Linked DNA regions of Homo sapiens: region 2 is linked to region 1. The links come from fine-mapping of genetic effects on gene expression. Tissue or cell type: whole blood. Region 1 holds a variant in brackets; the other region holds the start of a gene. All regions are shown on one strand. Distances are from middle to middle.

Region 1 (8,107 bases):
CATAGGTACTAGACTTAGTAACAGGGACATTTAAAAAGTTATAATACCTATATCCCATATGTTCAAGAAGGTAAAGAAAAGCATAAACATAATAAAAATAGATATGGAAGATATAAAAAGGACCCAAATCAAATTTCTAGAAATGAAAACTATAGTAAGACTAAAAATACAATAAATGAGATTAATAGCAGATTAGATACCTCAGAAGAAAAAAATTAATAAACTTGAAGACATAGCTTTAGAAGGTATTCAACATGAAATACAGAAAGAAAAACCTGCAGGAAAAAGATACAGCAAAAAAAGAACAAGGCCAGGCGTGGTGGCTCATGCTTGTAATCCCAGCACTTTGGGAAGCCAAGGTGGGTGGGTCACCTGAGATCAGGAGTTCGAGACCAGCCTGGCCAGCATGGTGAAACCCCATCTTTACTAAAAATACAAAAATTAGCCGGGCATGGTGGCATGTGCCTTTAGTCCCAGTCACTCAGGAGGCTGAGGCAGAAGAATCGCTTGAACCTGGGAGGCAGAGGTTGCAGTGAGCTGGGATCATGCCACTGCACTCCAGCCTGGGCAAAAGAGCGAGGCTTCATCTCAAAAAAAAGAAAAAAAGAAACAAGGCAAACCAGAAGACAGTGGAGCAATATTTTTAAAGCACTCAAAGAAAAAACAAAAAGACTGTCAACCTAGAATTCAATACCCAGCAAAAGACCTTTTAAAAATAAAGGTAAAATGTTTTTTTCCAGACATAAAAGCTGGAAGAATTCATCACTAGTAGACATGCACACAAGAAATGTTTTTTGTTGGCTGGGTGCGGTGGCTCATGCCAGTAATCCCAGCCCTTTGGGAGGAGGCCGAGGCAGGCAAATCACGAGGTCAGGAGTTCGAGACCAGCCTGATCAACATGGTGAAACCCTTTCTCTACTAAAAATATAAAAATTAGCTAGGCATGGTGGCGTGTGCCTGTAATCCCAGCTACTCAGGAGGCTGAGGCAGGAGAATCGCTTGAACCCAGGAGGTGGAGGTTGCAGTGAGCCAAGATCGCGCCACTGCACTCCAGCCTGGGTGACAGAGAGAGACTCCATCTCAAAAAGAAAAAAAAAATAGAAATGCTTTTTGTTTGTTTTATAAGAATAGAGACAGAGTTTTGCTTTGTTGCCTAGGCTGGTTTTGAACTCCTGGCTTCAAGAGATCCTCCCGCCTCAGCCCCACTAAGTGTTGGGATTACGGGTATGAGCCACTGCCCCTGGCCAAAAAAAGTTTTACAGTCAGAAGGAAAACAAAAGGAATCTGGATCTACACAAGGAATGAAGAGTACTGGAAAGGTAAATATGTAATCAAATAAAAACATCTTTTTTCTCTTGTTTTGAATTCTCTTTAAGAGATAATTGGTTTAAAACAAAAGTTATGAGTGTATTGTAGAGCTTATAACTTCTGTCGAAGCAAAATGTATGACAACAACAGCCCAAAGGTTGGAAAAGGGAAAATGGAAATATACTATTCTAAGATTCTTATACTGTATGTGAAGTAGTGTAATACTATTTAAAGAAAGACTATTAAAGATTAAAGATTCATATTATAAATCAAAAAACAATTACAAAATAAAGAAGTATAGACAGTAAGCCTACAAAGAAGATAAAACAGAATTTTAAAAATTCAATCCAAAAGAAGGCAGAAAAAGAGGAAAGGGAGGAAAAGGGAGATGAGACAAATAGAAAATGAATAATAAGATGGAGAATTTAAACCCAACCATATCAATAGTCACATTAAATTTAAATCTAAACATCCCAATTAAAAGGCAGATACTGTTAGGCAAGATTTAAGAAAGCAACACCCAACAATATGCTGCCTATAAGAAAATCACTTCTTTAAGAATAAAGACACGTATAAGTTAAATAAAGAATGGGGAAAATATGCCATGTTGATATTAATGGGAAGAAAGCTGGAATGGCTTCACTAGTATCAGGCACAAGTAGTTTTCAGAGCAAACAATATTACGAGGGATAAAGAGAGGGTCATTTTATAATGATTAAAGAGGTAAATTCATCAAAGGACATTACAAATCTAATGCTTTATGCACCTAAATTCTATATGTTAGACATTAGATTAGGTATTGAGAGAGAGATTAGTTTTTTTTTAAGTGAGCCAGGAGTTTTGCTTTCAGGACCTCTCTAGCCCTCTGCCCCATTTAGTCCCACTTGTCTCCTGGTTACTCCCCTCAAGCACTGAAGACATTAGTCTTTATTTCAGTCACATTCCTCCTTGCTACATGTCCTGGACTCTTGCTCACTGTACTTTCTGGCTCCTTGGCCAGGATCCTCATGCACTCCCAAGATCATTTCTTAAAATACAGTAAACTACCCAGAAATGTTCTGTCTCCAGAAATTCTAAGGTGAAACAACTCTTTGACTACAACCTCCTACACTTTCATTCTCATTGTTACTCCCACTACACCTATTAAACTTCATTAAATTCATTACGTTCAACTTCATTATTTAATGAATGAATTATTTAATGAAATATCCTGTTACTTTTTGTTTGTTTGTTTTGGGGTTGTTTGCTTGTTTTGTTTGTTTTTGAGGCAGGATCTCATTCTACCACCCAGGCTGGTGTGCTGTGGTGCAATCACAGCTCACTGCAGCCTTAACATCCCAGGCTCAGGCAATTCTCCCAGTTCAGCCTCCCAAGAACCACAGGTGTGTGCCACCACACCTGGCTAATTTTAAAAATTATCTGTAGAGACAGGGTCTCCCTATGTTGCCAAGGCTGGTCTTGAACTCGGGCTCAAGCAATCCTCTCACCTTGGCTTCCCAAAGTGCTGGGATTACAGGTGTGAGACACTGCACCCTGCCAAATATCCTGTTTCTTAAAACCTCTACTTTCACTATGAATCTCCTATCTTCTCTCTGCAGGTGAAAACTCCAAAGCTTAACATTCTAACCACTCTAGGGAGGGAGGATGGGAGGAAGAGAGCTGAGTGTGCACCAAGGAGCGGTAAGATGCCAGACCTGTGAGTGAAGAAGCATCTTGGAAGTGGACCCTATAGCTCCAGGCACCTGCTGACACATAGT[C/A]GGAGACAAACCACCCAGTCAAGTTCAACCCAAATTCCTGACCCAAAAAATCATAAGCAAAATAAAATATTTGTTTAAAGCCACTAATTTGTTATCCAGCAATAGAGAACACTTCTAATGGCTCTTTTCCATCAATATTTAAACCCTACCTTTCTGATTTAAAAAATATGTTTATATTCCCTCTACTTCACATACATCAAGCTGTATCTTTACTTCTGTTATATCTTTATTTCTCTTCACAGGCAAAACTTTTGATAAAAGCCATCTATTTGACTGTGTCCACTTTATCTCTCATTCAGATCTCATCCTATCCCCACCCCTTCATTTAACAGTCCTTGTCACTGTCACCAGTGACTTCATTGTTGCTAAAACTTTTCAGCTCCTATCTGAAAAGTCTGAGTGAGCAAGCACTCACTCAGACTTTGTAATGTTCTCTCTCTCCTTTTCCTTTTTTTCAGTTTTTAATTTAATTTAATTTTATTTTATTTTATTTTTGAGACAGAGTCTTGCTCTGTCACTGAGGCTGGAGTGCAGTGGCACAATCTTGGCTCACTCAACCTCCGCCTCCCGGGCTCAAGCGATTCTCATGCCTCAGCCTCCCGAGTAGCTAGAATTACAGGCATTCACCACCAGGCCCAGCTAATTTTTGTATTTTTAGTAGAGACAGGGTTTTGTCATGTTGGTCAGGCTAGTCTCGAACTCCTGGCCTCAAGTGATCCACCTGCCTCAGCCTCCCAAAGTGCTGGGATTACAGGCGGGAGCCATTGCACCTGGTCGGTCTCTCTATGATACCACTTCTCCTGATTTTCTTCTTATCTTCCTGGCTGTTCTATTTCAATCTCTTTTGTAGGCACAGGCTTCTCTTTTCTGTCCATCCTTTAAATGTTAGAGCTCCTTAGAATTCTATCTTTAGCCTCCTTCTCTTCTCATACTATATTCTCCCCTTAAGTGATCTTATCCCTTCTCCAAACTTCAGTTACTCAGCAAAGCATAAGGATTAATAGCTTTGGAGCCAGAAAGACCTGGGTTCAAATCACAGATCTTGCCATTTTGCTTGTGTGGTCTAGGGCAAGTTATTAAACTTTTCTAAGCATTCATTTCCTGATCTAGGGTAAACTACCTCATGGATTATGATGAAAATTAAATTTAAGAAGTGCTCACCAAAGTGCCTGGCACAAGATAAACTGTCAAAAAAGGGTGGCATTTTTTATGGTCCATAATCTTAGCCTAGATTTCTTTCCTAAGTTCCAGACACACATATCCAACTGCTACTTGACACCTCTATTGAAATGACCTATAATTACTTAAAACTCATCAAATGAAATTCATCTTCCCAAGCAAACCTCATTCAATCCTAGGTATCTTATTTTAATGAATGACACTACTATCCACTTAAGTTATACAAGCCAGAAACCTGCATGTCATCATAAGTTGACTCCTCTCTGTTCTTTACCCTTATGTAATTAACTGCTACATTTTATAATACAATGTCAGATATTGTTTTAAGTACTTTACATGAATTTAACATGAGATATGCACATATAGTAAAACAAAGTTTATAAATGACTAGTTAAGTATATAGATAATAAACAATTTAAGACTAAATGAGGGAAGAATGACTATAGACTAGGATGATCAGGAAAGGCAAAATGGACCTTAAAATCTGGTCAAGAAAAAGGCAGAGGAAAGCATTTCAAGACTCAGGGACAGGCAAAAACAAACATGGTTGTGTGAGTGAAAGACAAGTCTGAGTGGGGAAGAGAATACAGGCAAGGGTTCTCAAACTTTTTGGACTCAAAACCCTTTTATATTCTTAAAATTACTAAGGACCCCAAAAGCTTTTGTTTGTGTGGGTTAAATCTATTAATATTTACTTTGTTAGTAATTAAAACTTAATTTAGTTAAAATTTAATTAAAACAGAAATTTAAAAAATTACATCCTATACAATTCACCCATTTAATGTGTACAATTCAATAGTTTTTAGTATATTCACAGAGATGATAAAAGTGTTATAAAATTGACTACAATAATGAGTCAATTTTACAACATTTTCATTATCTCAAAAAGAAAAACCATACTCTCTAGCCATCATCCTCAAAACACCTAGTCCTCCCCACCAGCCTTAGAAAACCAATAATCTACTTCCTATCTCTACTGAATTGCCTCTTGTGGACATTTCATATAAATGAATTTATACAATATGTGGTTTTCTGTGACTGGCTTCTTTCAACATCATGTTTTCAAGGTGGTTATATATTCTTCCATTAGGAAGCATAAAGTAGCTAATAGCTTTTTTACATTAAAGGATGTTGAGGGCTCAAAAGAACTTGAGAAAATTTAAAAATATTTATCTTAATAAACCCATTATGTTAACATAAATAATTTTTAATGAAAAATAACCATATTCTACAAAACAAAAAAGATAGAACAATAGCACTGTTTTATGATCTTCTGAATGTCTTCACTATCTGGCATAACAGCAAAGAGCTGAATTTTCCTATCCGCTTCTACATTTACTTTGTTGCAATATGCTGTTTAGGTTGAAGTATACAAAGAAAAATCTGGCCTCATATGGAAAGAGGAGGAGTACTTTAATAACCTTTTCAGATAATTATGGTTACTGTTTTCTGACACTACGCCAAAACTCGACAAGTCATAGTTTCTTAAAGGTTAGTTGCAGGGCGGAACTGGAAACAATCTCAATGAACCGAAATAAATTTTTCGTATTTTAAGACTTTAAAATCCATTGGTTTATCTTGAACTTTTAATGAATATCTTACCCGTGAATGATTTTATAACGATGTATTTGGTCATTTGGAAATACTGGTTCACTGAATTATGTACTTCTTGTAAATGTTTACAAATCTCTCACATTCATTGATATCACCACCGATTTCATCAGAAAAGTATTTTATATATTAGGACTCTGTCAAGCTTTCAGTGGTGGATACAAGTTTCTAAAATTCTAATTTTTACTTGAAAACACAAAATTTATCATTGGCAACCTTTACTGTCAGTTGTTTTCTTTGAAATGACAGGCTCACTTTGTTCACTTTCAAGAATCTACCACATACCCAAGCATAAATAAACACAATTGCTTATCAGTCTTACAAGTAACACATGTGTTTCACGAAAAGAGTGACGGGTTCAGTTCACAACTCAACCAATAAAATAAGTATTTTTCCTCAAGACAGCTATCATACTTTGGTATGCAACTTTCTACATACTTCAGTTTCATCACATTGAATATTAAAAAGACATACTCAAGAGTGGAGATTAAAAAAAAAATACCATACAGGTCTGTAGTCTAGAAGCAACAGGCTATTCCTACCCTGATGTGTAGCAGGCTATACCACCTAGGTTTGTGTAAGCACACTCTATGATGTTCACACAATGACAAAGTTGCCTAAATGAAGTATTTCCTAGAATGTATCCCCATCATTTAGCAATGCCTAACCAAAGTTAACTTAAAGCTCCCATTCTAGTTTTTTTGTTTTTATTTTTTATTTTTTTGAGACAGAGTCTCGCTGTGTTGCCTCAGCCTCCCAAGTACCTAGGACCACAGGAACATGCCACCATGCCATCACACCTAGCTTTTTTTTTTTTTTTTTAAGAGATGGGGTCTTGCTTTGTTGCCCAGGCTGGTCTTGAACTTCTGGGCTCAAATGATCCTCCCACCTCAGCCTCCCAAAATGCTGGGATTAGGTGTGCACCACACACCTGGCCTAAAGCTCCTATTCTATAAACCAGCATTTGGTTTCTTTGACCTTCTTTCTATGCTGGATAATTTTAGAACTGTATCCTGAACATCATAAATGTTACATTGTGAAGATCCTAAATTCTGTTATTTTTCTAAAATGAGAATGGTTTTGTTGTAAGAAGCAATTATCTTTGCTTAACTTGAACTGTTCTGTTTATTGGGCAGCAACTCCAGTTTCAGTTCAGATCTTTTGCCCTTCATTTGGCTGCTCTGAGTCTGTGACACACAGGAATTATTCAGATTTCAGACAGAATCTGGGTACCCTTTCTTGGCTCTTTCCCTTGCAGGATTCTTCCACTCTCTTCAGTGGCCAAGGTTTCCCTAGCTTCAATTTTCCAGTTTTCCTGGTGAAGAGACCCATAGTTTTCCCACTGACATCCCTGCCCTACCTTACTGTCCTTCCCTATACCTACTGCACTTAGCCCTAGACTAAAAGCCTTCTCCTCAGGCTCCCAGCTCCCCTCTTCTCTTTCTCAACTAGCATCTGTTCTTCCTGTCCAGTAATTTCAGTCAGTTACTTTTTGTATTCCAAACAGGTAGTATAGTGGTCTTTTTTGCAGAAAGCCATATGGTAGGGTCTTCTTCCAACATTACCAGATGAATATGTCCTCCACAGGAGGTTTTTTACCTGAGGAATTAGCATGATGAGATTTACATTATGAGCAGATTTCTCTGGCTGCTGTGAGAGAAATGGTCTCAAGGTAGCAAATGAGAGATCAATAGGAAGAGTCCAGAATAGTCCAGGAAAGACAGATCATATAGGGAATAAAGCATCTGACATACTTTGATTTATAAACATTTATTGAAAAAATATGATAAATTCTGAAAATACTGAAACTAAGGCATCCAAATTTCATTTCATCACCTGCTGGCATTATAAACCTCTTAACAGATTTAATAGGGCCAAACTCTTGGAAGTCATTTCATCTAACCCTTAGGTATGATGCATTCGATAGCACCTGTAATCCCCCAACTTTTCAGAGAATGAGATTTCACTAGGTTTCTCAACAGACTTTTCCAGTATCTTACACTCATATATTGCCCATTAATCTCTCTGGGATGAAAAGAAACAGAAGTGGGCTTTTTCCTTATGGATTTATTTTATCTCAAGGCTGTCAAGCAAAAATGCTGAACCCAGTTCCCCACACAACCATTAAAAATAAGATGATGTTCTTTCTTTCATTAAATTATTGGCAGGAGAGAAGTAAGCAGCACCTCATTTGAAATTTCCCTCAGTCAACAACTCTGTGTGAATATGTTCCTATCAATCTACAGTTTTAA
Region 2 (8,107 bases), 140 kb before region 1:
GAGATATCACCCCACACCTGTAAAGATGGCTATTATAAAAAAGATGAAAAATAACAAGTGTTGGCAATGATGTGGAGAAAAAGGAACCTTTGTTGATGGGAATGTAAATTAGTACAGGCATTACGAAAACCAGTACAGAGGTCCTCAAAAAATTAAAAATAGGACTATTTTTAGCAATCTCACTACTGAGTATATGTCCAACAAAAATGAATCAGTATGTTGAAGAGATATCTGTGCTCCCATGTTCACTGCAGCACTATTCACAATTGTTGAGATAAAGAATCATCCTTAGTGTCCATTCATGAATGAATGGTTACTTTAATTTCCTACCATTGCCCTATTCCCTCCATATAGCCTTTGTTTCAGCCTTACTGAGCAATTTATAATTCTCAAACACATCATATTTCTTATTCTACTTAGACTACTTCCCTTCCCTAACACTTCCATCCCTAACCTTTGTTCTCTTAGCTAACTCACACTGACTCAGCCTCCCAAGTGGCTGGGATTACAGGCACCCACCACCATGCCTGGCTAATTTTTGTATTTTTAGCAGAGACGGGGTTTCACCATGTTGGCCACGCTGATCAAGAACTCCTGACCTCAAGTGATCCGCCCATCTCCGCCTCCCAAAGTGCTGGAATTACAGGCATGAGCCATGGCACCCAGCCCACACTGAAAACTTAATGCTAAAGTAATCTGTTTTGGAAAGCCTTCTCTGATCACCTCTTGGTATTTTGTCATTCTTTCACTATTGCCACAGTAAGTGTATATGTGCCTATTATCATCTTTATCACTTTTATATTCTAACACCAATTATAATACCATGCTGACATGCACAATTCTATACAGCATGGTAATAGCATGCATCAGTAAAGGTGCAGTGTGACTGATACCTCTACAAAACACAGAGCTGGGCAGTGCACCAATTTAATGGAGTCTGAAGGAATTTAAGTTCTAGAAAACTAAGGTGCTACCCAAGGTCATTCACCTAATCAATGGCACTTAGGGCACCAAAGTGCAGGCTGCTTGCAGTCATTCATTCATGCATTCAATCTGTAACAAGCAGACTGATGTAGAAATTTACTGGTGCTAAATTTTTGTTCTGGAGACGCAAAGAGGAAAAAAAGAACATTTTCCTCTTCCCTGAAGCGTAATTAGACTTTCTGAATTTCCAAGAAAAAGTCAAAAGACGGCCCCATCCACCTTTTCTTGTGATTAGGGCCTTGGTGCCTGGATACCTGAAAAGAAAAAAGCAAGATGAATTCCTCTGCTTTTGGATAACTAAAGGAGGCTTAAAGATACCCCAAAAGCAGAAGTAATTAGGGGGTTTAAAAAGGGAAGAAAGGGAAGACTTTTATTGCAGCTAGATCCCCATTGTGGGCTGGAAAAGGACAAGGGCTCCTAGTTTCACAAGAGTAGTGTCATGAACTTGTTAGGACATAAGAAGTGGCAGGACTAAAACCATGTCTTGAAATAAAATTACTAAGGGAACGAGAAGATAGAGAAGTCCAAGAACCAAACTCTGGGTATGCCAATGGCTGGAGAAGTGGTGGATGAGCCAATGGAGCTGCCAGTGAGATGGACGAACCAAGAGACAGGGGCCACCTGAAGGCCAACAGAAGAAGATGAATGCTTCAAGATGGCAGCTGTAAGCAAATGCTTCTAATGCTGCTGATAGTTCAGGTGAGATAATGGAAAAGTAACCACTGATTTAGCAATTCTGAGGTCATTGGTGACTTTGCCAAGAGGAGTTTCAATGGAGGGGTAGGGGCAAAAGCCTGGCTGAAATAGATTCAAGAATGAATAGGAGGGCCAAGCATGATAGCTCACATCTATAATCTCGGCACTTTAGGAGGCTGAGGTGGATAGATCACCTGAGGTCAGGAGCTCTAGACCATTCTGGCCAACATGGCGAAACCCCATCTCTATTAAAAATTCAAAAATTAGCTGGGCATGGTGGCACACACCTGCCGTTCCAACTACTTGGGAGGCTTAGGCATGAGAATCACCTGAACCCGGGAGGTGGAGGTTGCAGTGAGCTGAGATTGCGCCACTGCACTCCAACCTGGGCAACAGAGCAAGATTCTATCTCAAAAAAAAAAAAAAAAAAGAGGATGAATAGGAGGAGGGGATGAGGATACAGTTAGTATAAGTGACTCTTTTAAGACATTTTGGAAGAGACCAGAGAACACATTGGTAGCTGATAGGGGACATATAATCAAGGAACTTTTTAAAAGATAGGCAAATGTTGCGCAATGTTAATATGCTTATGGGAATGATCCAAAAATTAATGATACAAAAATTAATAATGTAGGATTGAGAGGTGACAACTACCTGAGTGAAAACCTTGAGACTGTAAGGAAGACAGGATCTAATACAAAGGTGGAAGAGTTGAACTTAAATAAGAGCATGCACAGCTCATTCCCAGTAATGGGAAGGAATAGAGTGCACAGGTACAGATGTAGGTAAACTTGGGAGATGTGGTGATGGGAACTTTAACTCCTGAAATACTAACCTATACTCTCTCAGAGTCTAAATTTTTAGTCTACTGAATTCAGCAATACAGTGAAGTTTAGTAGACCAAATTATCCAAAAGTGTTGAAGGAAACTTATATGTGATGGAGACATTTTTACTTCTTACTTTTAATTTTGACCGCCCTGGGAAAAACTGTTGGACCCATATAAAATTAAAATCTTTAGTGAAACACATTCTTTTATAGGTATATTTTAAAGTTTTAACTTCTGAGATAATATCACAGTTTTCAAAACACTAAGACATGTTTTTATTGTTAGCTAATTGTCAGGCTTCAGCTGAAGCACACCGTAAGGCCTGCATGAACTTCAGCTGTCCATAATGCGTAAAAGACCAAGTGCGCAAGGCAAACAGATCTTGCCATGGTTGCTGATGAAAGAAACTTAATCTCTTGGGGCCTGAGTTGCCTTATCTGTAAAGTAAGGATAATCCTTGCCTTACAGGATTATTGTGAGCTCCAAATAAGATAAACCTCTTGGCACACAATAGGTGCTTAAAAAAAAAATGCCAGCTATCATCACTGAAGTGAGCTTTTTCTGAGAGCAAACCTGTTTAACTCATAAATTTCTTTCATTGATAAGATGTAACCAGTGGAGAAACTTGGGGCAGGCACACGATGCCTCTCTGCACTATCGCTGCAACTTCCTGTTAATGTATACTTACTTTTTCTTCCATTTAGAGCTCTACAAGAAATACCTGTGTACCATTTTGCGTGCCTCCTTCTGAGGCTCAGTGGGCTATGCTCAGAGAATAGAGATAAATGTCTGCCCTATGTAGCAGAAAGGCAGTTATACATTTTAGAATGATGTTTTTCCGAAGAAATGACAAAAGCCAGACGAAACAGACTGACACGGTCACTGTGGTTTGGAATGTTAGTTTTTCTCTTTGGCTTTACTACTTTTGGCTCTACACTGTAGAGGAACCAGTGTCCTCATGAAACAGCCAGTATAAAAGCAAGTAGCTTACTTCACAGGAATAGCTAATAACATTTAATTGTTGAGCATTTAACCAAAACCCACTCAGGTCAATTTAAGTGTAGTGCAGTGGAAGAAATTATTGCACACTGCAAAGTTGTGGTGCATTTTACTTAAATCTACAAAGGCCAACAGAAGTGCAGTGTAATATAATAAATTACTGCAAAATATAATCATAAGGGGAGAAGGTGGCTGTTTTCGAAGCCCTTGGCCCCAAGGTAACTGAGGTCATCCCCCTGAACCCCCCAGCACACATCCTCATTATTTCAGCATTTGTACTACAGGGGGCTACAAGACTTCCGCCCCACAGCAATGGGGTGAAAACGTGAAGTGATCGGAGCCCCCAGATAGAGGGGCCAGCAATAGAAGAAAAGCTGGGGCAGGCTGGAGGAGAGGGGCTGTGGAAAAGGTTGCTCTCAGCATCATACACGCCTTATCCTTCTAGGTCGGGTATCCACAAATTCCCAAAATTTGCGAGAACATAACCCTGGAGAAGGTGGGGGTGACCCACGGAGGAACTCCCTGGAAAAGCGGAGGCGGCCCCAATGGGAGACTCCCGGGGGTCAACTCCGAGGGGAGGGGGCGTCTGCGAGAAAGGGGAGGGGCGGCGGTGGGCAGCCTAGGGAGGAGAGGAGGGGCGAGACGCCGTCGCCAGCCCCCTCCTCTTGTCTGCGCTCCCTTCGTTTCCGTCTCGGCCGGGCACCCGAGCGCATCCCGCCGAGGCCGGGCCGTTTCAGGGGGAGGCGCCAACTCATCGCGGCGCCGGGCCCCTGACCGTGCAGTAACCGCTACCCAGGAGGCGGAGCGGACAAGGCTCCGGCCTGCGAGGAGGTAAGAGGGTGGAGGAGTGGTGTGGGAGGCCGAGGGGGATCGCGGCCGTGACGTGGGATGCTGTCAGGTACCACTGGGGCAGGCCACCCCTCCCCGCCCCTGCGGCCCGACCTCCCCGCCAGAGACAGCTGAGGGGCCCAGGGGACTAGAGCCGCGACCGTGCCACAGGCCTAGGCGTCGTCGCGCATGCGTAAAACTGCTGGCGGGAGTTAAGAGCTAGGTTCCGGGGCTACACCCAGCCCAGGCCGCAGGCAGAGGCGGCCCTGCGCATGCGCAATTCCGCTGGCGTGGGCCCGGTGCGCTGCTCGCGACTACATCCTGCCCAGGCCGCCGGCCCAGGCTGCGCTGCGCATGCGCGAGTCCTCTGGTAGGGGTCGCGTTTGGCGTCGTTCCAGGGTGATCATCTGCTCGGAGGCCGCTCTCATCCTAAGCTCCCACGTCTGGTGTGGCTGGGGGGGCGTCACAGGTCCCGAGGGAGCGTCCTGCCTGAAGTTTCTCCCTCCTAACCCACTCGCTGCACTGCATATGTTGCCGATGTTTTCATTTCTGTGGCCTCGACCCCTAGGCTCCCGTCCCATAAATCTAGTACCCCAGGTCCCGGGCACCGGCCCGGCTCACTAACTCAGTGGCAGTATATGCTTTCGACATTTGGTCCTGATGTCCAGGAATAGCGCGAAAAGTTTGACTTTGTTAGGCGAAGCCGTTTTGGAACTGCGGAGGGATGGGAAGAAATCGCCGAGCGTCTTAAGCCGCAACATAGTGCTCTGCTCAGCCCTGGAAATAGAGGTTTTCAGACATTGAAAACTTTCCAAGTGCTCCGTCTTGGCGGAGAAAGAACTGAGTTGGAAGGCTAATTTAGAATGAACTTTTTGCTTTTGTTCTTTGCAAAAATTACATAAAATGTTGCAACAGTTCGAGACCAGGACTATAACAAAACGCATTTCATGGAGCTACTTTGTACCGCGCTTGGCGACTTACCTTGTCAGAGCTGAATAAAAGTGGTTGAGTTCACAAACAGTGCTCTGGATCGTTGCTCTTTCCCCCAGACACTGTTTAACGTTTATTGAGCCTCCTGGCTTTGCACCTTCCTAGTATTGCGTTCCTGCTGGGTTTTACACCTTACTAGACAGTGGGTCTTAGTTAAGTCAGTTTCGTGACTCCTGGGGCTACTGTGAAGAGTTTCTAACAATGTCATTACTCTGTGCTTTGTAATCTTATATGATGTGCTGATACAGATATTTGGGGGCTGGAATAGAAGAGCCACTTAGGCTCAGAGAATGAGTATTCTAGGTGAAACGTAATCTCTTTATTTCCTGCTAGACAGTACATGCGTGTTATTAAGCAGCAGGTAAAAGCAACAAGAATGATACGTTCTTGCATACCCCACTTCCACCACTCAGGCCTTATTGCTCTTGCTGGGCTCGCCAAGCGGACCCTCATCCCAGGGCGTCTGCGTTTGGTATTTCCAGTATGCTCAATGCTCACTTTCCCACTCTTCGCAAATCTGCATGGCACAGAACTTTATTTAAGTCTTGAAACAATTGCCATCATTTCAGAGAGGTGACTACCTCACCTAAAATGTCTGGCTCTCCAAACTCTTGTACTGCTGGTTCGGCTTTGTAGCACTTAATCACCATCTGATATTATATATTTGTAAGGGTATGATCAATCTATCTCCACCATAATTGAAGCTCAGAAGGTATTTGTTAATTGTAGAAATAAAATTGGAAACTAACTTACTCCAGAGATATTTTTTTACTGAACTCAACCTAGATTCATTCATTTATTCAACAAAAATTGATTTTCTATCACGTCCTGTCCTTGATGCTTGGGATGCATCAATGAACAAAAGAGACAAAGATCCCTTCCCTCTGGAGCTTACATTCTAGCAAAGAATGATAAAAAACATATTTGTATATTAGGTTAGAAAAGTACAAATGCTATGAAAAAATGAAAAAGGAGAACAGAGAAAGGGAATTGGGAGTGCAGGTGTGGGTTGCAATTTTAAACATCATGGGTACGGTGAGTCTGAAGGATAAACCAAAGGTGATGTTTAACATGGGGAACTGGGTTTTAGAAATAAATGTTCTTCTGGGAGAAAACGTTCTTTATCGTGCTCTACAATGTCTTTTATGGGAGCCCACGGCATGACCCTTGTGATAAACGTCACCATTTTTTATAGTATATAGGTGAAAAAACATTTTTTTCCTAAATAAGAGTTCAAATTATTCAGGAGTTTACAGTTTAACTTAGCACATCAAATGAAGACACTGGACTTTTACAAGGAAGAGCTAGCCAGACATCTATGTAAATTGTGCTGAGAAAAACTGTACGTTGTCTCCACAGTTTTTGCAATTGCTTCTAAATGTCCCTCTGACTGTGGATGACTAGTGAAGATCTTTTCTAAGAATGGTCATTGCTTTTCTGTATTTGAAACTGTGTAGGAGAGGAGCTTAAATCACCTGGTGTGATGTTATGCTATAAATGACCTCTCTTACAGGTATCTGAATGAACCAGATAGACCTAACTAAATTTCAATCCATAATTAAAGAAGGCTTAGAGAAAGAGGGTGATGGAGAGGAATAATTTTAGAAAGTAAAGTGTGTTTCCCCTCATGTCCTTTACTTACATAGATTACAAATACTCTGTTCAAACACCAAAATATTATTAATCTAGGACCATAAATGTAAGGAGTCCATGGAATTTGCTTATGCCCTATGAAATTGTCATATTCAAGTTTGGTTTTATCAGTTGGTTAAAGTAAAATTTAAATGCCCCAAGATACTGCTACTGTTGAGGTTTACTTGGATTTAAATTACTACAAATCAGGCCGGGCGCGGTGGCTCACCTGTAATCCCAGCGCTTTGGGGGAGACCAAGGCAGTCAAATGTTCTTGAGCCCAGGAGTTAGAGACCAGCCGGGACAACATGGCAAAACTCTGTCTCTACAGAAAAACGAACAAAAAAAAAATGAGCCAGGCATGGTGGCACACACCTGTAGTTTCAGATACTTGGGAGGCTGTAGTGTGAGGATCACTGGAGCCGGGAAGGTTGAGGCTGCAGTGAGTCATGATCACACCATTGCACTCCAGTCTGGGCAATAGTGTAAGACCCCATCTCATAAATAAATAAATAAATATTGCTACAGATTAAAATTGTCCAGGAAAAGGTAGATTGGAGACCAGGAATTATTGGGGTTACAGAGTGACATTAAGGACTCTTGTTAAAGACTAAAAGAGAGTTCTACTTGGAGATTTTACTTCAAAGGAGTGGATGGCTTGCCTCCTGGTAAGGGATATTGATAATGTCCATCAATGGAAGGCTGAGATGATACTTCCAGCTTTCATTGTCTGGAAGGAACATGTATCTAGTTCACATGGTGATCACATTCTAACAACGTGAAAGTTTCCAGGAAACTTAAACCATAATAATTTTTCAGCATTAATTTGACATTAGAGTGGGTTTCTTTTACGTCTTCAGCCTTGCTAATTGGCCTGAGCTAATATCTCTTATGTATATCTCCCTATGGAAGATGTTTTGAGCTAACAAGTACCAGTAGGAGATAGTATGTGAATAAAACATAAATTTTGACTGCATTATAATATGTCCTGTATTATGCTGCGTGTATGTATGTATATAATACTGAACAAAACCAATCTCAAGTGGAAATGAGCCAAGGCCAAGAGGGCCTGCCATGTTGAAGGAATATATATGCTGTGGGTCAAAGATCTTTAACAATTAGGATCTCTGTAGCAGGCGTGTTAAGATTT

The links. PIP is the estimated chance that this variant, and not a neighbour inherited with it, causes the effect.
Region 2: it holds the start of RCBTB2, and the variant in region 1 is fine-mapped to the expression of RCBTB2 in whole blood (TOPMed, PIP above 0.99).

What each region holds. Positions count from the first base shown.
Region 1 is chr13:48,384,612-48,392,718 of GRCh38, reverse strand. All of the region lies in intron 17 of RB1 (RB transcriptional corepressor 1), which reads right to left. It also overlaps a transcript of LPAR6 not described here. Among named protein-coding and RNA genes, the nearest start is that of LPAR6, 24 kb to the left of the region's middle. The variant C/A (reference allele first, on the strand shown) is at 3,066.
Region 2 is chr13:48,529,259-48,537,365 of GRCh38, reverse strand. It overlaps RCBTB2 (RCC1 and BTB domain containing protein 2), which reads left to right and starts at 4,286. Exons shown (of 15, transcript NM_001268.4): 1 at 4,286-4,338. It overlaps LOC124903174 (a long non-coding RNA gene), which reads right to left. Exons shown (of 2, transcript XR_007063795.1): 1 at 5,317-8,107. RefSeq lists silencers at 4,071-4,120, 4,231-4,630 and enhancers at 4,671-4,910, 5,801-5,970.